3 separate regions of the Homo sapiens genome follow, and regions 1 and 3 are each linked to region 2. The links come from fine-mapping of genetic effects on gene expression. A gene starts in region 2. Each other region holds a variant in brackets. All regions are shown on one strand. Distances are between the middles of the regions. Region 1 has its middle 47 kb from the start of KCNK5. Region 2 holds the start of KCNK5 (potassium two pore domain channel subfamily K member 5). Region 3 overlaps KCNK5 (potassium two pore domain channel subfamily K member 5).

Region 1 (8,176 bases), 46 kb before region 2:
TTTGAGATCAACTTGTCAACATTTCCATAGGTAGACACCTACGCTTTGCCTGAGCAGTTTCAATGACTGGGAATTCAATACCTCAGTGGGATGTTGTTGGATATTGGGGGCAAAGTGAGGAGCACAGCAGGGTCTTTTGCACCTACAGGCTTTTTCATGTTGCCTGTGCCTAGATGGGTCAAGGCTCTTTGAGTGCCAAGGAACCTACTAGTTATAAAAGGTGAAGGTCAATGTTAAGATACAAATCTCAGGAGAACCAAGGCTGGCCTGGCTCCTGTCTCTTCCTCTCTTGCCACGTGCTAAGGTTTGATTGATGGTCTCCACTCCAAAGTTCATGTTGAAACTTAATCCTCAGCGCAACACTATTAAGAGGTATGGACTTTGGGAGGTGATTAAGTGGGGCAGTATGTACATTATCGTCATTCCTTCCCTCCTGGGAATGGGTGACTCCTTGAAGTTCAGGGAGAACTATGACTGGACAGCTGTCACTTTCCAAGTCAGATCTGGACAATTTAGTTCCCTCTCTCTCCTGCTCCCTTAGGGAAACTTCAGGCAGCCACATATCTGGGATTTACCAGGGATTCGGCTTAATAGGAATAACCTCTTACATTCCTGTAGTGCTTTCCAATCCTTTGTCTCTGTCAATCTTCCCAAAATCTAGTGAAGGAGAAATATGTATTCCTGGTTTGTAGGTGAAAATCTGGCTGCTCATTGACTTGCTGAGGTCACAGGGCTATTGAGTAGGGGGATCTCATGCCAGATTTCAGACCCTCAAGCCGCATCCCTGCTGTAGGGCAGTCCTCCAGCCTCCAGGCTCCCACACTGGCGGTAAGTATCAAAAGAGTTAGAGAATCCAGCTTGGTCCATTTCTAAGGAAGAACCACTCTGAGATTCCTCCTTAACTGGTAGTGTTCCTCCTTCCTTCAGTGTCTTTTTGGTTTTGAGAAAACTCTTCATTTTGGTCCAACTGGAGCTCCCCAGTACCCCCTCGACTAAGAACAGAATGTTATAGCTGAAGGGAATTCATTCCTTCAAGGAGCATCTATTGAGCACCTCTTGCAGGCTAAGCACCACTTTAGCCATTGAATTATTAGCAAAAATCTAATGATTCACCTTTAATCCAATGGTCCTCAACCCTGGTTGCATATTTGAATCAACTGGGTTTTTTTTTAAGTGTGTCATTTAGACCCCATTCCAGCCAATGAAACCACAATCTTTGCAGGAGTAGGGGTGGGGGTGTGGTTGGGTTTCAGCATTTTATTTTAAAACTCTCTAGATGATTCTGATGTTCTCCCAGGGCTGAGAACCTTTGATCTAGTTGAAATGTGGCCTCCATCATGTTACAGAGGATACTGAGGCCCATAGAGGGGCAATGCCGTCCCCAAAGTCACAAGTCTAGGCCTAGTTCCCCTGCCTTCAAACTCTCAGTGCTGTTTCTGAAGATACTTGGTAAATATTTGTTGAAGGCATCCATGAATGAATGTGGAGTGGGAGGGAGAGAAGATGGTGAGTGTGGTAGATATATTTGAGATGCTTTCCCTACCCACAATCCCTGCTGAAGACGGGCCAGCCTAGGTGGCTGTCTTTGAACTATGTGACCCACCTTGGCAAAGCTAACTAGGAGAGGAAACCTGAAACAAGATAGACCAATGAGAGGGCCTGGGAAGGTATTTGAAATGAGGTGCCATCGCTCTCACCCTTGAGGTACGTTAGAATCCCCATTTTTCCAATGAAGAAATAGAGGCTCGGGTAGGTGAAGTGACTTGCCTGAGTCATGCAGCTAGGAAAGGGCCAAGCCTGGAATTTGAGGCAGTTCCAAGAACAACCCCTCCCCTCCCCTCTCACCGGGAAGATGGGACAGACACCCATAAAACATCTAGAGAACAAGTTAGCAGCCGCAAATGTGAAGTTACCTGCCAGGCAGAGAAGAGCAGACAAGAAAATCTGGGAGGGCGAGGACTACCAAGTGAATCTTTCTAGACGGTTAGTGTAGAATCAGGCCACCCAGTAGAGGAGACACTTGAAGAAAAGACTTCTTATGCATATCTTGGGGTGCCTCTCCTGGACAGTAGGTCAGGGTCTCTGGGGCTGAGAGTTGGGGATGATACAGTGAGGACACTTTCCACAGTGACCACTTTCACGAGCTCAAGGAAAGAAGAGAGTGTGTGATCAGGATACAGCAGGAAATCTCAAGGAAACCTAGGAGAGGGCCCAGCATCCCCTTGAAAGTCCTGGCACTGAAAGGTGTCTCCCCTGTGGCCTCCAATCCATCGCCAAGTTTGTGCCCAGACTGTGGGCTGCTCCCTGCCAGGAACGGAGTGCAGCAGGAATAGCAAGGCAGGTCAATTCCCAGGAGACATGTCTGAGACGCCTTTGGCTCTAGGACTCCCCAGCAGCCTTGCCTAACTTTCCTTAGCCTGCGTGGCAGTCTAGACTGCTTCCACCTAAGCTTCAACCTTCATAGGCACTGGGATAGAACTTGCATGGTGGTCAGACAGCGTTCCCAGCCTCTCATAGGTGTTTCCCTCAATGCAGTCCTCTCTGGTTTAATCCAGTCATGGCATCTGCTTCTTGGAGAACCTGAACTAGTAACGCACTGCAGTTCTGTGTGGGTCATTAAGGATCCCTGATTCCAACCCTTCACAATGCCTTCCTCCACCTCCTACCACAAACACAGACACAGACACACACACACACACACACACACACACACACACACACACACATGAGTATGAGAGTGGAAGAGAACAAAAGAAAGAGGAACCTTTTCCCGGGGTCCCCTTGTACAGTGCCAGGCACAGAGCCTGTCAAAAAGTAAGTGCTCAATTAAGAGCCATAATTGTTAGAGGGAGAGCACCACATGTGGCTCAAATGCCCGGAGCAGGCCTGATGGTCTGCAGGATGATGCCTGCCCTGATGGGACGGGGCTGTACTACGACTGGCTTGTGGGGTGAGACCGAGGGGCCCTGGACCTCTGTAGTAGCCACTTCTGACTGGGGCCATGGACATCCTGTGTGGAGTCATCCCTTCCTCTTCACTCGAGGGCAGGGAATTTCTAGAAGACCTTAGATTCCCTTCTGTGTTCCCTCCTTGCCTCAGTCACAGTATCCTATGTGTCAGGCTGTGTGTTTCTGCTCAGTGATATGATCTTTGCAAAGCCTTAGTCTGAATCTGACACACTCAATAGCTTTCATCCAGTTGCCAGGACCTAGTCTTTGCTGAGAGGGTCTCCCCTTTAACTATAAAGAGACCCAGGACATAGAGACTTGTCTGAAGCTGCAGTGCAGTTCAGCAGAGGGCAAGACAGCTCCTGGACTAGGCCCTCGGCAGTCTCAGAACTCCAGCTGAAGGCAGAAGTCCCTTTAAGCCTCCAGTTTGGACCATGACCCAAGAGCTTCTATGTACATTTAGGGGGCAAGTACACATAGACTGCTCACTCATCACCCCTGCAGTTAGCTCCTATGGGCCTTGAATCTTCATCCCTAATCAGCAATGGTCTGAGGCGCTCGAGGGAGTGCAAGTGACAACTTCACGAATTACATTCTCCCTGAAATCCAGAGACTGCTTCTTCCTTTCCAGGATGGACAAAACCTCACTCTCCCCTGCCCTTCCCAGCCTGCAAATCATTCCAGAGGTCAGTGCAGTGATGTGCTGATGAATGTTTAACATCTGGTTCTCTGGAGAGCAGAGATCCCTAATTGGTAGTGTTTGCCCATTTCCAC[G/A]GTGTAAATGCTTGTCCTATGGGCAATTTTTAGCTACCAATATGGTGTCACAAAACGTCAAGTTGGAAAGAGAAACACAATAGCATATCTACAGGTATTTGCATATACCTGTAGAAGATGAAAAATCACCTCAAAAGCATGAATAATAGTAAGATGCAAAATAGCTAGGAAGTGATGAATTTTACATACTTATGACCTTTGTTCTTAATACCATCTAATTGCATATTTATATAATTTAATTTTTTAATTTTTTTTAGTAGTGGCTGTGGTTTAACAACCAGCTTGCAAAATTTCCAAAAAGTTAACCACCAGCTCCCGTGAGCTGGTATAAAAGGGCTCCAGGCCACTGGGTCAGAAAATTTCCCCTGGAGTGAACTGTTGAGGGTGGGAATCTGAGCTGATAGAAAGAGGCAGGTGTCTGGCTGCTCCAGGCCTGACTGCCAGGTAGCTGTTCATTTGCCCTCAGTCACCAGCATCAGGTGTTCTAGGCAACCTTCGAGAGACTCAACAAATACAGGTCATCTGAGTTAAATAATGTGTGATGTCAACACCTAAAACGCAGCAGCTCAGCTGGCCAGAGCTGCAGGTGAAGGAATCAAAGAAGGAGGAGGAAATTTTACATTATTGATGTCAACACAGATTTCAATGCAGAATGAAAACAGGTGGGGATGGATTGGCAGGGATGTGGGAAGCTTGGAGAGACCTGACCTTTGTTTGAGATCTCCAGCCAGGTGTTCCCAGAACCTGGGTATTTCTGGGCTTTACCCCAGAGCTTCTGAATCAGAATCTTCCCAAGGTGGAGCCCAGGAATCCCCTGATGATTCTTGGGTAGTCCCTGCAGGGTTGGTTGGTCCACCTCACTGGTCTTGGAGATGAGGAGGGCAGACTCTGGGGAGTGGCTGGAGCTGCAGCCAGGACACCCTCTCTGTACACTCTTGTCCTTGAGCAGGAGAGTTTTGCCCTGGCCGGCTTACACTGTAGTTAATAGCACAGGCCCTGGATCCTTAAGTTAGAACCCAGACTCCACCTCTAGCTGTTGTATAATCACTGTGAGCCTCAGCTTCCAAACTGGGTAATAACACTGTTGTGGGATTACGTGAGATCATATGCATAAAGTATCCTGGGCAGTGCCTATAAGCATCCTGTCAATGATGGATATGGCCATTAAGGTCGTGCAGCTGGATAGTAGCAGAACCCAGGCTCTTTAAACATAGCAGGGAGAACTAGAGACCCTAAAGTAGAATGGGCTTTGATATCTGGAAGGTACGAACTTTGATGTTGCATAAGGAAAAGAGCCCCGGGTGAAGAGTTAGAAGACCCAGTGACAGTTGGTCTCAGCTCTGCCAATTATTGTGTTCGAGGGCAAAGAGTTTTAGCCTCCAGGTAGGAGATACTATTTGTGCCAGGTGGCCCAATCCCTCAGCCCACTTGGCATTTCACCGCTGCTGTAGTGCCACCTCAGGGTGCCCAGGTGTCTCTCTACCTTTCTACCTCCAAGCTTTCTCCAAAGCCCGGCAAAGGTCACATAGCTCAGGGCAAGCCCAGCCAGTGTTCCAATTATCTATTGCTGTGTAACAAACCACTCCCAGGCTTTCAGGATTATGAAAACAATCATTTATTTTGCTCATGATTCTGCAATCTGCGGGCTGGCTGGGCTCCACTCTGTATGGCATCAGCTGGGCCTGCAGTGTTCAAGATGGAATCTCAGTGGGGCCAATTCTCTCTCCATGTGCCATCTCCATGGGCGAGTTTGGGCTTCTTCACAGTGTGGGTCTCAAGGTACTTGGATTTCTTACATTGCAGCTGGCTTCCGCCAGAGCACCAAAGTGGAAGCTGCCAGGCCTTAACATGTGGGTTCGGCCAGGTGCAGTGGCTCACACCTGTAATCCCAATACTTTGGGAGGCCAAGGTGGGTGGATCATGAGGTCATGAGGTCAGGAGATCAAGAGCATCCTGGCTAACATGGTGAAACCCCGTCTCTACTAAAAATACAAAAATTAGCTGGGCATGGTGGTGGGTGCCTGTAGTCCCAGCTACTCGGGAGGCTGAGGCAGAATGGTGTGAACCCGGGAGGCGGAGCTTGCAGTGAGCCGAGATCGTGCCATTGCACAACAGCCTGGGCACTCCAGCCTGGGCAAAAAACAAACAAAAAAACAAAACACACACACACACCCACACACACACACACGGGTTCAGAAATCACAGGAATCACTGCCATATTCCATTGACTAAAACAGTCCTGGGGGCAGCCCACATTCAAAGGGAATAGACTCTGCTTCCTGTTGGGGAGTGGCCAGTTCATTTTGCAGATGAGAATGTGAGTGGGGAGATATTGTCGCAGTCATCTTTTGATAATACCGCCTGTTGCATCCACATGTATGAAAGGAGGGTGGGGATGAATTTCCCTGGGGCCATCCTTAACCAACAAGGGTGGAATTGGTGGATAAATGGTCCCTGTCCTTCAGATGGACAAATCTGAGGTGTATTCTACAGGTTTTTCAGGGGAGGTCTAGTGGGATTAAGCCCCAGTTGCCCACAGTTGAAACAGCTCTAAAATGAACATGTATGACCTTTTCCTCTTTCCCCATGTTTACCTCTACATCCCTTTCTGCTACTTCTTCTGACCATCTCCCAGTTCTAGCCTTAGGCCTTGTTTTCCTGGAAAATCAAACCAAAACATTTATTACCTCATTTGGAAAAGGCCCTTAAATTGAGGCCTGTAAAATATTGCACCTGGCTCCCTGCTGTTGCGTAATCCCACCCAGGAATGGGTGTGAAAGGGCTTTATGAACTGAGAGGCTGGGCCCGGTGTGCAGGGTTGCTGGGAGCAGAGGTAATCCTGAGGGAACCGTGGGGACTGGGGAGCTGCTGGGTTGGGAGGCCCAGCTCCCGGAATCACCTGGGAACAGTAAGAGGTGAAGATGGGGAGATGGGGCAAGTGGAAAAGGGGGTGCCAATGACAGTGCTCCCTGGGGTGGGGAGAAATAAGGTGTGCTTTATTCCAGTACTGCCCTGCAGATTCAAGTGACTTGGCACAAGATAAGGTGACTCACCAGGCCAACTCAGCCTGCCACAAGGGCCCTCAAGATCATCCACCTGGCCTTGTGGGGACTCGCCCTTCTGGAACAAGCCTTGCCCCCTGATTTGGCCTCTGCCCCAGGAAGAGAGGGACTGAATTACCAGTAGGAGGGGCCAGGCCTCTAGTTCATTTACCCTCCATTTAGTAAACATGGAAAAGCTGGGCCCCTCTCCACACTGGGCTCCCAGGAATCTGAAGGTGGACAAGCTACTCCCTGTGCCCTTTAGCGGCTCCCAGTCAGGGGAGGAGGCATAAGACCAGGAGGCAGGGAGCTGGAACAACATCAGAACAGCTCGGTGGGAGAGAGGCAGCTTACTGAGGAAGGGGCTCTGGAACACAGAGGAGGAGCACCTGGCCCAGAATCCGGGAGGGCTACAGGTAATTGTGGAAGTCTTCCCAGAGAAGGTGATATCCATATCTAATCCCACTAGGTCTCAGGACTTACCCAGGAGAGAGAGAGGAAGGGCATCAGGGCAGAGGAAACAGCAACGGCAAAGTGGCTGGAGCCCAGAGAGGTGGGAAAGGAGAGGAGGCTGAAGAGAGAGGTGGGGCGGGGGGGAGGGGGTGGAAGAGCAATGGGGAGCCCCTGAGGAGTTTAAAACAGAAAAGAAATGGGTCAGGTTTGAGTTTAGGTTGCTGGCTACAGTAATGGCCAGGTAGAAAGGGAGTCAGTATTAGAGGCAGGGAGACCAGCAGATGGGGCTCATTCATTCATTCAACAAATATCTGTGGACCCCCTACCAGGTGCCAGGCCCTACGCTGTTGTGGGAGATCCAGGTGAGGGGCCAGGTGGCCTGGACCCTGGTGATGGGGCCATGATGGATAGACGGGACAGAGATCTTAGGGAGGGGTTTTCACTGTGAAATACATCCTGACAATTCACGAGTTGTCATTGGTTCCTGGACCAGTTGTGCATGAATTTGGAAACCGGGAACCTGTTATTTCAAGAATGGAGAGATGAATGGCAGAGCTGAGACCAAACCTCAGGGGCCTCATTTCTGGAGGCCCCACCCAGAGCTGTGCAGCCCAGCTTGCCTGTCCCTCCCCACCACTCTACCCCAGACTTATGAGAGCTTCAGATGCAATGGTGGCTGCTGATTACCTTGCCTGGCTCTTTCCAGTCAGGAGGTGAAACCCAAACATCCTGGTTTCTCTTCATCACCTCTGGCAGGGAGCTAAATGTCTCCTCCAGGATCATGCAGGAGATAAGAAGCCCAGCTGGGACCCTGAGGGTCTTTCTGTGCTCTCCTCCTTGTCAGATTAGACTCCTTGAAGGGAGACGCTGTCTCTCACCTCCATCAGACTCTGGGTTCTCTGAAGATGTCTCCCCTGTCAGATCAGAAACTTAGAGGGTAGAATGAGGAATGAGAATGCA
Region 2 (8,176 bases):
CTTCTCCCTTCCTTTACCAGTTAGGTTTTTTTTTTTCTTTAATCTTTTTTTTCTTTTTTTGAGACAAGCTCTTGCTCTGTTGCCCAGGCTGGAGTGCAGTGGCGCAATCCAGGCTAACTGCAGCTTTGACCTCCCAGGTTCCCAGCTGTTCTTTCTAATCCAAGACCCCACTCTGGCTTGAGGTCATCTCCTGAGAGCCCTCCCTGACCCCTCAGGCTGGACCAGACCCTCGTTAAGCGACCTCCTGAAAACCTCTTCTGTAGCCCACACCCACTGTCTTGTTCCCAGTGGGTTTATGTATCCTTTTCTCCAGCAGCTCGGAGTGTAGCCTAATTCTTTGTATCCTGAGAGTCTTGCCCAGTGTCTGGCACATGGTGGATACTTAATAAATGCTTGCTAATTTCCATGTACTTTGAAACATGAAACTTAGATGTGAAAACTGACTCCGCTCTATGTGATCCCAGACAAGTTACACTGGCTTTTCCCCTAATTTTCCTCATTTATGAGGTGGCCTGCAAGATTAAATTAAAATAAGAATGTATATAAAGTGCTTATTCAAAGTGGTCTGGTGCACGGTGGGCTCTCAAATCCTTCCTGTTTCTGATCACTGCCCACCAGAGGCAGAAGGTTGAGAAGGGCTGTCCTTCCTCCCCTTCAATCACACCCCCACTGTTTTTGGTGGGACAGGGGTTGGGGACTTCCAAAATGAGAAGCGCAGAGGGGTGGACTGATGTATTACTTCAGTAACAGAGGTGCTGGGTCAGCCAGGCAACAACACAGGAGACGCCTGTATGCCATTACCTGTGCTAGGGGAAATAGAAAATAGAATTTTCCAGCAGATCAGGGTCCAGCTGAACCAATTTCCTAAGCTCAGTTACAGAGCAACAATCTTCACAGGCCCAAGAGGGAGGTGCAAGCTCCTGGGGCAGACTGCCTGGTCATTGCCCCTCCCCGTCCCGCCCCATAGGCTGTGCCTCCTGTGGTGTCCCTGTGGCCATTCTATCTTCTCTGGGCTTCAGCTTGCTTACTTGAATACATACTGTAAAGAGTACCTGAAATAAGGCAGGTAGGTAAAGCTGCCTTCCTCAATAAATGCTAAGGTCAGGAGACCTGTTCACTTTTTATAGACATCTTGCCTAATGTTTCTACTCTATTGGAGCCTCACCAAACACTCATTTTGCAGATGAGGAAAGGAAGGCAAAGTTAAGTTACATGGCTTGATGGGTAAATGGCCGAGCCAGATGGCAAAACCAGCCTGTGCCCTCTCTCATAAAATGAGGATAATAGCACCCACAATGCCCAACACAGAGTAGGTGTGCTGTAAATGTTAACTTCCCTTGTGTGAGTCTGCAATTTAGGAAGAGGTTGGGAGAATGAGTCACCAAAGATCTTGCTTGAGAGCAAGGGTTCAAGATGGTTCTGAAGACAGGAAAGAGGACGATCACGTGGTCCCAGGCTGGCGGGTCACTGAGCACTTGAAAGTCAGCCTGCACCTCACTTCAACCACAGCGGAGGGAAGGAAGTATCTGACAATTCGGGGGGTATTTCTAAAGAAAGTTGACTTAACTCCCTTTCTCACACATTTGAAAGAGCACACACAACTTTCAGGGTAAGAGAAACCCCAACTCAGACTGCACCCCATCTCTTCCAACAATCTTTGTCCCACCCCTGGTTGTACCCCAGGAATTCCTAGCTAGGGGCTCCTTCATGATTCCAAGGTGATTCAGAACCAGCTAAAACACAGAGCGTCAGGTGGAAAATGCCCAAGCAGCCAGATGGGAAAGAAGATTTTTGAGTTTTCATTTTTCCTTAAACCAATATCCTGAGGCCTGAGGCAGTACCCCAAGTCACAAGAAAGCAGAGCAAGGCAGATTTCTGCAGATTAAAACTGATGTCAGCAAATGCTTCTACTTGTCCATTTTCATTTCTTGGGGTTTTTCCTATGACGGGAAGGGACTCGCCCAGTTGGGGTTGGTTTGGGAGTTTCTTTGGCCGGGGATGAGGACAGGGCTGTCCTTGTTCAAGAACTTATCTATAATAGCCTCCAAAGCAGACTGGCTTGATGCCCAAGTCCTTTTTCTAAAAATTACCTGCCCATTACTTTTTTTTGGTAGGGGGGTAAATGTTGACAGATTTAACAGGACTGCTAAATAAGAGGCATTTTGTTTGTTCAAATACCTTAAGAAGCCGTCTAGCCTCCAAAGCTATGACCACCAGCTGCACCCGGCTGCCTAACCCCTGGACCCCGCCCCCCCCGCCGTATGCCCCGCCAGCCTTTCCCTTTGCCTTGTGTTTTGAAGTTTATTTTCCCACATTTAGCCTTGAATTCTTTCCTTCCTTCCCCTGCAGTGTTGGAGCAACAGCTTAGAGGGAAACACTTCGAGGGCAGCTCAAGGCTTTATCATCCTTGCCTGCCCTCTTCCCCCTCTAAACAAAGCCCTGGAACAAACTAAACAAAAACTTGTTCTCTAGAGGAATTGTTTCCTCAAGGGAAATCATAAAGCAACCCCCTCCCCACAACACACCCCCCAGGGTAGACGCCCATCAGAAGGAAGCCATGTAGACTCTTCATGCCAGGACTCTTGCTGTTAGGAGGTAAACCAACCAACCATCTACTGAAGCTTATCCTCCCCACCATCACCTCCCATCTGCCTCTACCCGGGAAACTGCTACAGGGCAAGAGACTCTCCACTAAAATCCAACACTAAGCCTGCTAGACTAAACCTCCCCTTCTACAGGACCCCTTGGAGGACAAGTCTCCCCACACACGGCTGCCAGCAAATACGTATATGCTTATCTGTGTGATGTCCATCAATCTGGGGACAAGATTTTGATGTTTTCCAAATGCTTCCAACCTAACAGTCCGTGGCAGAAATAAGGAATGAGGATGGGCTCATTCCCGTTTCTCACATGGGGAAACGGAGGCTGGAAAATGAGCGACGACTAGATAGGCATAAAGTATTGAGGTGCTGCTGTAGACTAAACGTTGCTTCTCATCAGACCTCCTTTCTGGCATCTTTCACCCTGAGAGCAAGGTAACACCCTGGACAATCTACCCCTACTCCCTACCTGCTGCAATCTAGAACTTTCACCCAGGTCCTGGTCATTCCACTGGGGGAGCAGGCCAAGAAGAGTTGATGGTTGAAGCTGAGCCCTCGAGAAACTGGGGTAGAGGGCCTCGGTCCCCAAATGGGCCCCAAGGTCTCAGCCAGGATAGGCAGCCCGTTTATCCAAAGTGAGGTCAATGCCACCCATCGGGCTGTGCACCAGAAAATAAGCGGTTCCCAATGTCAGCACGGAGGGAAGTCCCCCACCCACCCCAATTCCGCACACACTCTCCTCCCCCATCATAAAGGGACTACGCGGGTATTATTCGTTTGTGCAACCTGCTACTTTCACAAAGTTTTACTCCAAGCCCTTGAAGGATGTCTCCGCGAGATAAGCCTTCCCGGAAGCCTGAGCGCGTCCCCAGCATTCCAGGCACCAGCCCTCATCCCGTGGGTTCGGGCCCCACAGAGCCTCCAGCTCCTCTCCGGAACTCTGCTGGGGGCGGAAGATTTTGCCCAGGCTCGGGCTGAGGGACCCTCCCGCCACTCTGCCGGGTTCACGTTCCTTAAGAAAAGCCTGGCAGGCGTGGCACTGGCCCTGGAGCGGGGAGGTGGAGACACGAGGGGATGGCACCAGGCTTGGCTCCCAGACTCCGGGAGCGTCTCCAGGGAAAGATAAACGCCTTTATCCGTCCCACAGCCTCTTCCCAAGGAGGGAGGTACCGTCACACCCACACTGAAACACCGTGGAGCCTAGTTCACCCGGGAATCAACTCCAATTTGTCTCCGGCCAAACTAAGTTCCAAAGAGTCTCCGCGCCTGGGGGACCCCTGTGTCCCTCGGGTGAGCGACAGATCCTCGAAGCCTGACCCATGATGAGACACGCTCTCTCATCACCCCCTGGACCTTCCACAGGGACTGAGGGTCACCCAAAGCTGTGAAGGGGTCTTCCTTTCAGCGCCCCCTAAAGCTCAAGCCAGCTTCAGATGTATATGGGGGTACAGGCGGCGACTGACCTCTAGGATCTTGTCCAGGCCCTCCTGACCCAGGCACGGGAACTCCTTGAGCAGATGCAGCTTCTGTGTGTAGTAGTTTTTCTTGGCCTCCTTCCAGTGTGGCTCCTCCAGCACTTCGAAGATCGCCGCCCCGATGGCCAGGTAGAAGATGATGGCCGAGGTGAGCAGAGGGCCCCGGTCCACCATGGCTCCCGAGCGGCCGCCTCCTAGAGAAAGCCTCTCCTAGCCCCAGCTGCTACCAGTCCGCCCGCCCTCCAGCCTCTGAAAACAGCTGTTTGAATTTGGAGCTCCGCATGCGCAGTGCCCGGTACTCACCCCCCGCAAGCACCGCTCCCCGGACAGAGTTGCTTGGCCAAGTTGGCCCACGGAGTGCGGGGAGCTGCGTGGGGCCCCACTCACGCGGCCCGGGGTGGGCGAACACCAGCGGGGCTGAAAGGGCGCCCTGGACCGCGGATGCGTAAGGAGCGGGAAGAACACAGGACTTGACTCTGGGCAGACACGTGGGCCGCTTCTCCACGCGTCGCTCCTCCGCGCGCCACTAGCAGTATGCGCCGCGCCCGCCTCCGCACGCCTCTTTAACCAGCGCCCGGCGCGCTCTGCCCCCTTGCTCCGGGCTCCGACCGGGGAGGAGCCCAGGCGGGCCCCGCCCCTTCCCCGCACAAGCAGCCCGGCGAGCGCAGGAGTGAGCGCGAGGTGAGCGCTAGAAGAGGCTTGGCGCTCCCCGCGCTCCCAGGGTCAGCCGCCAGGGGAGGCTGCGCCGCCCGCCCAGACCTGCACGCCCTGCGGTGCCCGAGGGGTTGCGGTCTCAGGGACTCGTGTTTGTTATTAGGACTGGCGTGTTAACTAAAATGATTGTGACTGAGGTCAGGAGTTTATTGCTTTTGTTATTTTTATTGTAATTCCATTTTCATTTACTGATGTTTCTTCCAAAAAAGTCTAATGCTCAGTCTCTCCGTGTCTCTCTTCCACACACTTTCTTGTAAGCCTGAGGAAGGGGGTTAGAACGGGGCTGAAGAAGCTGTAGGGAATCAGAGGACATCAGGAACTAATCCAGCCACCCACGCGTGATTCCTCCCCCTCACCCCGTTCTCACCTACCCGGGTGAGAACCCTGCATCTGGAAGGAGTGGGCAGCTCAATTCGTGGCACCCCTGTGCGCCCCCCCAATACACAGTATCTCTACGGGAAACACTTGGCCTCTTTTCTTTTTTTCTTTTCTCTTTTCTTTTCTCTTCTCCTTTCCTCTCCTTTCCTCTTTTCTTTCAGACGGAGTCTCACTCTGTCGCCAGGCTGGAGTGCAGTGGCACTATCTCGGCTCACTGCAACCCCCGCCTCCCGAGTTCAAGCAGTTCTTCTGCCTCAGCCTCTCAAGAAGCTGGGACTACAGGCGCACGCCATCACGCCCAGCTAATTTTTGTATTTTTAGTAGAGACGGGGTTTCACCGTGTTGGCCAGGCTGGTCTCAATTCCTGACCTCAGGTGATCCGCCCGCCTCAGCCTCCCAAAGTGCTGGGATTACAGGCGTGAGCCACCGCGCCCGGCCCACTTTCATACATATGCTCCAGCTGATTTAAAATTCCACCCCCGCCACCTTATCTCCCTCGTTGGCTTTATGTCCTTCCTAGTACTAAATTCCCTCTGCTATATTATATAACTTTATTTATTGTTTACTCTGTATTGTGCCCTCTCCCCGCCACACACACACAGACACACACACACACACACACACACACACACACACACGGAAATGTCTGCTGGGGAGATGGAGAATCTGTCTTGTGTAATGATGTATCCACAGTGCTTGTTACATACATAGCAGACACTCAATAACCATGTGTGCAATGAAGGAGTGAATGAATTTGTTAAAAACAGGTGCCCAGGATGTTTCTAACTCGCCTTGCTGCCATTCTCTGAGCTCTTGTAAACCCCAGGAAGTACTGAATCCCTTCCATGCATCATAAGCAGGCCCTGTCATTCGACCCACTTTGCAGTGAGGAAAAAAGCTCAGTGGGTTAGTTTGTTCAGTCTTTCAACCAGCACCAGTCAGAAGTTGGAGGGGGAACCTCCTTTCAGTGCTCTGTACCAGGGGCTGGCCCTGCCCTTCTCTGGCCTCTGTAGGGGCAGGTACTGGAGTGGCCAGAGTCCCTGAGCACTGTCCCCTGGCCAAGGCCTTTTCTTTCCATCGAGAAGAAGGGGAGTCATTTCTCACCTCCTACCCACCCTGTACCCAGGCTGTGGCCTGAACCCCAAGGTGTCAAGAGACACTTTACTTGGGGAGGGGGGTATCTGTACTATCTCCAAATCTGGCTGGAATGGAGGGGTTAGGGATACAGTTGGAAGCATTGATCTGATTTTGCTGATGTTTCTGTCTCTCCTTATGGCAACATGAGCGTGTCCAGAGAAGAAGACCAGAGCAGGAAGCTGGGGAGCCCCAGATTTCCTGATACTGCATCCCTGAGGTGTGCAGTGCCAGTCCCCTCAGGACCCCCCTGGCCAAGGATCATCCTGGACAAGGCCCTGGGGGTGCTTCTCTGTAGACAACCCACTCCCAGCACCAGGCCTCTCACCCAACCCAACATATCCATCTTCTCTAAGCCTTGCTGACCTCCTGCCTACCCTGTCCCCCAGGCTGTGGCCTGAACCCTAGCTCTGCAGTCTCATTCTCCAGCCCTCCAGCTGGGATGGAAACCAAGCATGGGTTCCGGATCCCCCCTCTCTGGATGGAGTTCACCCTGTTTGTGAAGAGTTCAGGGCTGCAGTGTGAACGCTTCAGTGAGCATGGGGTGGGGGCAGTTTGAGAGGCCACAGGCCCTCTCTTTGTTTGGAAAATTCCCTACCATTCCTCTCCCACCTCCGGTCTGTGTTCTCTTCCTAAGAAAATAAAGGGCCTCTTCCTATTTCGGTCTCACAGCCTCATGAAAATGCTGAACACTTTGAGATGAATTGATTTTTATTCGAGGCCTCTGTATGTTGTAGTTTCTTTGTCCTTCCACTCTGTTTCTGCATTTCCTGTCCCCTTCTTCCTTCTTGCTCTCCATGTGGTGCTGACTGACTCCTCATCCTCTCCTTCTGTCGCCGCATCCTTTGCTTTCCTGTATTTTTCCAAAGCTCCTTCCCCAGCTCTTCATTCTCCCTCCTCCTGCCTCTCTCCTTTGTCTCCATCCCAGTTGAATGTGCTTCCCCTCCCCCAACTTCCCCTCCCCTCCCCATCTCCCCACTCCCCTCTCCAACTCCCCTGCCCCAGCCAGATAGTTGGATCAACTTGACCTTCTGTAGATCAGGGGCACACACCTGCTCTCTGCACAGCAGCCAGTGGGGGCTTTTATAAAATGTAAACTGTGCTGAAACTATCGAATATTTAGACAACACGAGCCTTAAGATTGGAAAAGGGAAAAGTGGGTAAATGGGAATGAGGTGATGTGAGATATATATTTTCCTACAGGGCTGATAAATAAATCCATTCCAATAGCATACGTGTAGTTCTTAGTATTATGATTATTGATCAGGGTTGATAATAATTTCAGAGTGCAACCTTTTGGAAGGCAATCAGCTCTGAGGAATGTAAACCAACAATAAAATTCTAGGCCCCTCCCAAGCAAGCAAATGGACCCTTCCTCTTGACCAAGGGCATTCTCAAGTAAACACAAAACACTAGTTCAGGCCATGATGGAATGGGTGGTTGGACATGGCTCCTTTTTTTTTTTTTGAGAGGGCGTCGCACTCTGTCACCCAGGCTGGAGTGCAGTGGCACAATCTCAACCCACTGCAACCTCTGCCTCCTGGGTTCAAGCAATTCTCATGTCTCGGCCTCCCAAGTAGCTGGGACTACAGGCATGAGCCACCACGCCCGGCTAATTTTTTGTATATTTAATAGAGATGGGGTTTCACCATGCTGGCCAGGCTGGCCTCAAACTCCTGACATCAACTGATCTGCCCACCTTGGCCTCCCATAGCACTGGGATTACAGGTGTGATCCAAAGCGCCCAGCCGACATGCCTCCTTATAACTTCCTCCCTTTGGAATTCAGGCACAGCTGACCAGCATTAATATTAAAACAGAGACCTTAAGGCACAACCTGGCCAACATGGTGAAACCCTGTCTCTACTAAAACTAC
Region 3 (8,176 bases), 26 kb before region 2:
GTAGTGCCTTTTGGAAGTGTCTGGAAATGCTTTCTAAGGAGGAATGTTGCATGTACCAGGCACTGTTCTAGGCAGTGAGTATACTGCAGTGAACGGACGGAATCCCTGCCCTCCTCTTATGTTTATTCTAATGGGTGATGGGAGATGCTCTGGCATTGAGAAGGCAAGGGGCTAGAGATGCTAAATGCCCTGCAATTCACAGGACAACCACACCCACAAGGCCAAAAATGCTCCCCCTGGGAAATGCTAGTGCCAAAGGTAACCTGTGATTTGGGAATCATTTAGTAAGTGCTAAGGAGACATCAAACAAAAGAACTGGCAAAACAGGGTAACTGAAGAAGGCATTAAGTTTGGGAGTGGGGAGAGGTGGAAGAGCTGGGCTTTCTACCCTTCACCCCACTGATGGTGTGCCCTTTGGGGACCAGCTGGCAGCCTCAGGCCCTGGCTTATCAGGCAGCCACAGCATTATGTGCTTTCCCCATGACTTCTAGTATCCCTCTGTGGTTGCCCAACAAGGGGCGGGCAAAGGAGGCACTGGAGAGAGCCCCTAACTCCCCGGGGCTGCAAGCACTACTCATTCCTTGCAAAGACCCAGTGGTGGCAATTACACCCACTGGGCGGAGAGAGGTTGGTTACCTGGCAGAACTGGGCTAGGTTGTAGACTGTCTGGTTTCAAGTCTGCAAGTTCAAGCCTCCCTGCCTCCATCTGCCTGGGTCTGCCTGCCCCTGGGCTGCCCCACTGCCCCTTGCGGTTGCCTCCTCTGCTGTGGTTCCCAAGCAGCTGGCCTGGGAATCAGCTCAGCTCCACCCAAGTGCTGGTGGAGAGAAGCTGTGCTAGTGCTGCTGTATGTCAGACACCCCTCGCCGGGGCTTTTACACACGTTACCTAACTGGCTCTTCCTGTCATTCTGCCAGGCATCACTTGGCAGAGGAGGAAAGCCAGGCTCAGGGAGCTGAGGTCTGGATGTGAATTTGGGGTGCTAGCTCCCTATTCCCACTGTGTGTATCTGTGGATACCTCACTGATCATGGCTGGGATTATGCAGGAAGAGGAGGGGGCTTTAATTGGTCTCCCAGAACAGAAAAGCTGACCCAGGACTAAGGCCATCACTGGGTTAGGGGAAGGGACATGGGAGAGCCAGGTAAACACCCTGTCAGACAAGGCGTCCCGTCCTCGGGGTTAGGGAAACAGCTTTCGCGGGAGGAGGCGGCCCCTGTTCACTGGCTGGATTCTTTAACTTGGCTCCCAAATTCACACGAGACAATATTTTCATTTTCCATACAAGCCTGGAGAGTAATGGGAAAAGGGGAGCCTGCACAAAGCTCAGGCCCAGCTCTTGTTTGGGAACGGAGTAGAGTTCCCTGTCTCCATCACCGTCACCATAAAGCAGCTGTGATTTACGGAGGGCTTCCTATGTGCCAAGAGTTGGGTAAAGCATTTTATGTGCCTTTAGCTCATTTAGAGAGGACAGATTCTTGCTGGGAAGATACTATAATTTTTTTCCATTTTGCAACTGAGGATTTGAGGCTTACAGAGGTTAAGAAAGTGCTAAAAACAGTGAAGCCAAGACTAGAACCCAGGCCCATCTGGGTCCTAATTGCTGTTCTCCTATCTCCTGTCCCCATAAAGGCCACAGGAAAGAGGCCTGTGCATACTCCCACCCACTTCCCACCAGCTGAAAAAACAGTGCCCTAAAACCAGTCCAGCCACTCTGACCAGCTCTCATGCTGTTGCTCCAGTGAGGAAACAGCCATGTGTGCCCTTGCCCAGAGCTTCAGATGTCCAGCTGCCCCAACCCCACCTTCCCAGGTGCTCACTGTGCTGACTGAGTAATCTTGACTCCCAGACATCCCCTCATCCCCCAAGGATCTGAGGCTTCCCTTGGCAGTGGTGGGGCATCCCCTTCCTGGAGAGAGGGATCTAGATTGGGGCTTTGGGACATGCCACCCACCTTCAGACATGGGCAGGCAGGGCAAGGTGGGGGCTTCCCCTTTACGGGGTGGGGTAAGGGAAACCAAAGTCAAGATGTTAGCCTGTTGGGATCACAGCTATCTGGCACCCATAGAGCTACTCCCGGCCCTGCCTCCAGCTCCACAGCCGCCATCACTTTAGGATCACAGGACTCTTTCTTGCTCTGCAGGATACAGCCTTAACAGTCTTCCTCCATTCCAGCCTCTGCTAGACTCCTGGATTGTCAGTGGTTCATGGGTTAATGGGTTAATGGGTTAATGGGTTCATGGGCCAACCCTCCTTTACCATTCCCAGCTGCATCAATTCTTTTTTCTTCTTTTTTTTTTTTTTTGCGATGAGAGTCTCACTCTGTTGCCCAGGCTAGAGTACAGTGGCGTGATCTCAGCTCACTGCAACCTCAGCCTCCCGGGTTTAAGCAATTCTCCTGCCTTAGCCTCCCGAGTAGCTGGGATTACAGGCAGGTGCCACCATGCCCAGCTAATTTTGTATTTTTAGTAGAGACGGGGTTTCTCCATGTCGGTCAGGCTGGTCTCAAACTCCTGACCTCCGGTGATCCACCTGCCTCGGGCTCCCAAAGTGCTGGGATTACAGGCATGAGCCACCACTCCCAGCAATCAATTCTTAATTCACTGTGTCAAAGCTCACTTGGCCCTGCGGAGGGATGGTAAAATTGGGCCCTGGAAGGGAAAATAGAGCTGACCCTCTTATGTGCGTGTGCTTGGTAGTACAGAAAGAAACTTATCATTCCTCTCACCTCCCTTCCCAGCAACCTTGTAAGGGGTGTGGGCATGGCTATTCATTCTTATTTCATAAATAATACATTGATATTTAAGCACTTATGAAGACAAGCACCTAAATCCAAGCACTTTACTTATCTCACAAAATGCCAGTACCCTCTAAAGTTTACTGTATTTTAGTTTAAAGTATTACTACCCCCATCTTACAGAAGCATTTGCCCAAGGTCACAGAGCTAGTTAGTTGTGGAGCTGGGATGAGGGCCCAGGTGGCTTCTAACCTCTGCACTATCTAGAGACGGGGGTGAAAGGCATGCAGGTGAGCTTCTAGGTGCAAGTGAAACGGCCTACCAGGCAATATCCACAGACATGCAGAGACTCCCCTAGAGTGCCAGCTTCATGGGGACAGGGCCTTTTGTTTTGTTTTTCACTGATGTATTCCCCAAACTTAGAACACTGCCTAGCACACAGTAGCTATTCAACAAATATTTACTGAATGAGTGAATAAATACATTTAAATAAATAAGGGTATATTCCCTGGCCTCAACTAACTTGTCCTCTAGTGCCCCTCCATCCCCAACCACTTCCAGCATCGTTCTGCAGTTGGCTTTTCACTAAATTCATCAGTTAAACAAGGTGGAAGCCTGAAGAGCAAGAGGGCAGGAAGGAGAGGCACAGACCCCAGCGGCGGCGGGGCTCACAGGGGCTGCTGAAACCACCAGCCTCCAACTGGTCTTGGGTTGCAGAGGTGGGGATCACCAGGTTGAGAGGAGAGGGCAGGGGGCAGGAGCTGGGGAAGGGGCAAGGTGAGGGAGGCAGACAAGAGCCCAGAGGAGAGGGTTCAAGATGGGAGAGTAATCAGCAGTGGAGTGGGAGAGGTCCCTCAGGTGACTGGGACTGTCCTTCCTGCAGGGAGGCCTGTCCCCTTGGGAAACTCCACGAGGGCAGTAAATGTACCGAGAGCAGGCAAAGGAACAGAAGAGTCAATAGAAATTGCACATCTACTTCCAGCTGACCACTTTCCTTACTGAATCCCAAAGCCCCTCCTCTCTGAGGGCACTCAATCAATCCCATTGGCAGCAGGGCCTCTGCAGCTCAGGTTTAGCTCTATCTAGGAAGCCACAGGGCCATCTTCCAAATGCAGACCTGTGCTCATGGAAAAGGTGGAACCAACCTGGATTTGAATCAGAGGGGTCTCTCGATGGCTGGCAGCAAGCCTCTGGGTAAATAACTCAGCCTCTCAGCCTTACTTTCTCTGTCTGTAAAATAACACCTACTCTGCACACATGAAAAGAACCTAGGACTCAGTAAGCACTGGATAAATGTATCTGCAATCAATATTGTGATTCACACGTGTGTCCGTCAGGAACAAGACCCTGCAGAGATCTGAGACCCAGGAGCAAAGCTGCTCACCCCCAAAGCTGAAGCAGATGGGCTGGCATGTCCTGGACAAGCAGTAGAGAAGGACTAGGGATTTCAAGCCCTGTGCCTGGAAGACAGGAAAGGGTGAGAACACTGTCCCTAACCTTCTTCACAACTGCCAACTCTTCCCATTTCCCCATTTTA[A/C]CAGAGAAAACTGTCGATTTTCAGCCTGATCCATCAGCTCCCTCAGGCCACATGGAGGAAGGGACTGTGGTTCCAGAGATGTTCCCTGGCCACCTGATGGCTGGGAGTCAGGGGCAGAGGGAAACGGGCAAGCCCAAGATGCCTCACCCCATCCCTCAGAGGCCCCATCTCTCCTGGCCTCTGCCCCTCAGAGGCTCACAGCCACCCTGGCCAGTTTCTCGTCCAACCAAGCAAGTTGGGCAGGGCTGCTGAGGGAAAGAAATGCCACCACTGGTCCCATCCTGTCTTCACCACTTCCCCCCCATCACCCCTGGCAGCCGCCAGTACCTCCCCAGGTGAGGCTGAGGCCAGGAGGTGTTAGATGGCAGCTTCTCTGAACTCTAGTCCAACTCCCTCCCAGCCCCCACCCAGCGTGAACATGAAGCAAGACAATGGGCAGTGGCTCTCGGTACAGGCTGCCCAGTAGATCCCCTTGGAGGTTAAATAAATGCTATGCCTGGTCCCCAACTGCAGATATTCTGTTGACCTGGCACAACTTTTAAAAAGCTCCAGAAGTGATTCTAATATGCAGGGGCTGCCCTAGTGGAAGCTGACAGGGGGAGGGAGGCTCAGGCCTTCTCCATCTTCCTGTCTAAAAAGGAGTATGCAGGGCAGAGAGAAGGAATTCTTGGTATTTTCCTCACTGCCTCTCCCCCCGGGTCAGGTGACCAGGGTGTGGCTCGGAGGGCAGCTGTAGTTTACGAGCAAGGTATTGGCAAGGGCCCAGTGGTGCCACCCTGATACCTGCACCAGCAGCCAACCCAGCTCGCCTGAGCTTTGTCTCTCCCAGGGAAGGAGCAGATACTGGACGAAAGGCAGCAGGGCCACACCCGTCTCCTCGAAGACCAGAGCTGGGCTGTTGCAAAGCGGACTTTGTTAACTTGTGGTTGCTTATCTCTTTTCTCAGATTTGCTCTGATATCTATCTGGAGTATGGATCACATTTGAGAAGAAGGCAGGCAGGCCAAATCAATGGCTGGAGGCTTTGGTGTGCTAGGACGTCGGCGCAGGGCCTAAAAACCCAGGCTCAGCTCAGCTCTGCCAGTACTGTCTTGAGATCCTCGAAGAATCTTTGATTGCTTTGCCTGCCTGCTTCTCTGTACAATGAGGAGGTTGGACTATGACTACTGGAGTCCCCCTGCCTGGGCAGGTGATACCTCCCCTACCTCCTCTCCATAGCACATTCAAGAAAATGCATTTCTATCCTCAGGACTTAGCTCATCAGTCACCATACTACTTCTTAACCTGGACTACAAACTGAGATCATCTGAGAGAGCTTGGAAAAATACTCCTGCCCGGGTCCTGCCCCTAGAGATGCCAAGAGAAATAGTCTGGGGCTTGAACTGCGAACCAGGATGCTGCAAAGCTCCCCCAGGTGATTCTAATCTTATGTTCAGCCAAGTTTCAAACGCACTGCCCTAGATCCAATCCATTCTCCCTCATTAGGGACTTGAGCGCAGCCCCACCCCTGACATTAGCACGGGGCAGGCTGTGCATGCACACAGGCAGAACTGTCCTCTTGTCCACCTTTGGGCTTCCCCCAGCCTGCCCTCCTGGGCCATCTCTCAGCAGTCTCTGCAGAGCCCAGAGGCACTGCTAGGTCTCACGCTCAGGAGGGCAAGCCCCTGCCAGATGGGAGCAGGTTTTCAGCAGAAACCCTGGGCTTCTGACTTTCACAGGCCTGGGAGCCCTGTCCTCACTGGGAGGAACAAAGAAAACAAGGCAGGTGACCCTGCCCGCATTGTTCTCAGGCTGGGACGGTAATCCCCCAGGGCAGGGGGGCAGCTGGGCATCCCTCCTGTGAGAACAAGCCCAGGGCAGAGCTGACCTGAGGTTGCAGGTTTGGCTAAGGCAAGCAGTGAAGGGCTGGTGGGGCCCAAGCTCAGGATGGAATGTCAGCGTGAGCTCTCAGGCACCTGGAGGGCTGAGCTGATCAGTGACTGACACTGGAAATCCCTGTGCGGGCAGACACAGGGGACCTCGAGGGCCCCTTCCTGGTCCCACAGCACTGCTGTGTGCCTGAGAAGTGGGCCTGGGGAGCAGGAAAGAGCCCCCTCCCTCTCAAACACACATACCAGATGACCCTCTGAGGCCATGCTCTCAAAATCTACCCCTGCCTCATCTTCTCAGGGAAGGTGGGATGTGTCCAGGGAGGCTTAAATGACAAGAGGGACATCCTTCATTTACCTATAGCTTCTCTACCCCAATTCACAACCACTGCCCTGCCCAGGGTGGCTATGGCCCAGGTCCATGGTCCTGTGCTGGTGTCTCTGCCCTATCTGGGACACTGAGGCCTGGATTTGTGACTTTGTCCCCTTCTCTGCCCCCAGAGTTCAGATCCCAGGGGTGTCTGACACCTCTCTGCCCTGAGCGATGCCAAGGGGTGTCTCCCAATTAGTGGGACAACAGTGTCAGTAGGGACAGGAAACAGTTTTAGCTGGGATCCCTTGAGCCTGTCCAGCTGGGCAGAGCAGCCTCCTCCATTCCTCCATAAGGCTGTGGGTCACTAGGAAGAGGCCTTACTTCTAAGGTGGGGTTAGAGAGCTCTAGCCCAAGCCCCTGCACTTGGATTGGGCCCCTGGCACATTGTCCTTTCCAGGGAAGCCAGCAGTGCTCTCAGGCCTGGCTCATTCCTCCCCGACTTGGTTAATAAGGGCCTGAGTTAGCATTTCCCCACCAAAACCCCACATTCATCAAGCACCTCTCACACCCATAACTCCTCTTCCACCGTCTAATCTGAGACCTAAGACCCTGAAGGGAAACCAGACAAAATGGATACACTATTCCCATTCTGTAGATGAGGAATCTATAGAGAGGCTAGAAAGATGGTGAAGCCAAACAGAAAGATGGTGAAGCCAAACAGCAAGCTGGTGACCCAGCAGAGCAGGTGAGGCCCTGTCCACAGAACAACCAGCCCTCCACTTGCCACCCGGAACTGGGCTGAGAAACACCAACCAAAGCACAGCAGGGAATGTGCAGGTAGACACTGGTGACATAGCAGAGATAAAGGGCTGTGCTGTGCGGTCATACCCACGGATCTGACCTGACTATATGAGTTAGGGTAAGCGCGTGCCTACGCTCCCTACCCCATTCCCCTGCAGATGCCTCAGATTTACCTTGACCTTGGGGTGGGGTCAAGGATCAGCTACAGGAAGCCACCAGCCACTCAAGGTTTCTAAAAACAGTCCTTGGAGCAGGCCAGAAAGGTGGCTGTGGGAACTGCTGACTCATCACCTTCCCATCCCGGGCCAATGACCTGAGGGAGGTGCAGTTCCCGGGCCGCCCAGCTGCCCCTCGCGTGCTGGCCTGCTTCCTGTCCTCCCAAACCCAGCTCTGCACTGGCACACAAGCTGGGCTGGCCAGTCTCTCCAACACAAATATCAAGTGTGGGGCCCTCTCTGAGCAGCACAGGGGAGAGGGCAGAGGGGAAAGGCCACATCTGGGTTCAAAATCCTGACTCCAGCATCCACTAGCGGGTTACCTGGGGCATGTCTTATCACCTCTCTGAGCTTAACACTCCGTATCTGGAAAACAAGAGTCATGGCTTCACTGTGTTGGCGCGTCGATTACAAAAAAATGATGAACAGCTCAGTGCTGGGCACATGGGGCGTGTTCCAGAAACGAGCACTGGGAAGGAAAATAAATGTGACTATTATTGCTCTGTGAATAGAACAAGGGGCTTGGGGAGGACACCTCCATTCTGAGGGTCTGTGTCTGCTGCATGTGGCCTCCAGAGCTGGGGAGCTGGGCTAGGTGTTGACAGCAATGCCCTCCTTCCATTTACCACCTCCTGGGCATGGGCCAGTCCCTCCGGCTCAGCAGTTCACCCCCCTGTGCCTTTGCAGGTGCCTTCCTGCAGCTCACTCT

Evidence for each region.
Region 1: its variant is fine-mapped to the expression of KCNK5 in subcutaneous fat (GTEx, PIP 0.98).
Region 3: its variant is fine-mapped to the expression of KCNK5 in stomach (GTEx, PIP above 0.99).

The regions. Positions count from the first base shown.
Region 1 is chr6:39,178,600-39,186,775 of GRCh38, forward strand. No RefSeq gene overlaps it. Among named protein-coding and RNA genes, the nearest start is that of KCNK5, 47 kb to the right of the region's middle. The variant G/A (reference allele first, on the strand shown) is at 3,723.
Region 2 is chr6:39,224,863-39,233,038 of GRCh38, forward strand. It overlaps KCNK5 (potassium two pore domain channel subfamily K member 5), which reads right to left and starts at 4,613. Exons shown (of 5, transcript NM_003740.4): 1 at 4,064-4,613. The coding sequence starts at 4,249. RefSeq lists enhancers at 811-1,105, 5,191-5,918 and silencers at 3,291-3,360, 4,374-4,453, 4,554-4,903.
Region 3 is chr6:39,198,967-39,207,142 of GRCh38, forward strand. All of the region lies in intron 1 of KCNK5 (potassium two pore domain channel subfamily K member 5), which reads right to left. Among named protein-coding and RNA genes, the nearest start is that of KCNK5, 26 kb to the right of the region's middle. RefSeq lists enhancers at 4,066-5,265, 4,207-5,166, 5,167-6,126. The variant A/C (reference allele first, on the strand shown) is at 4,272.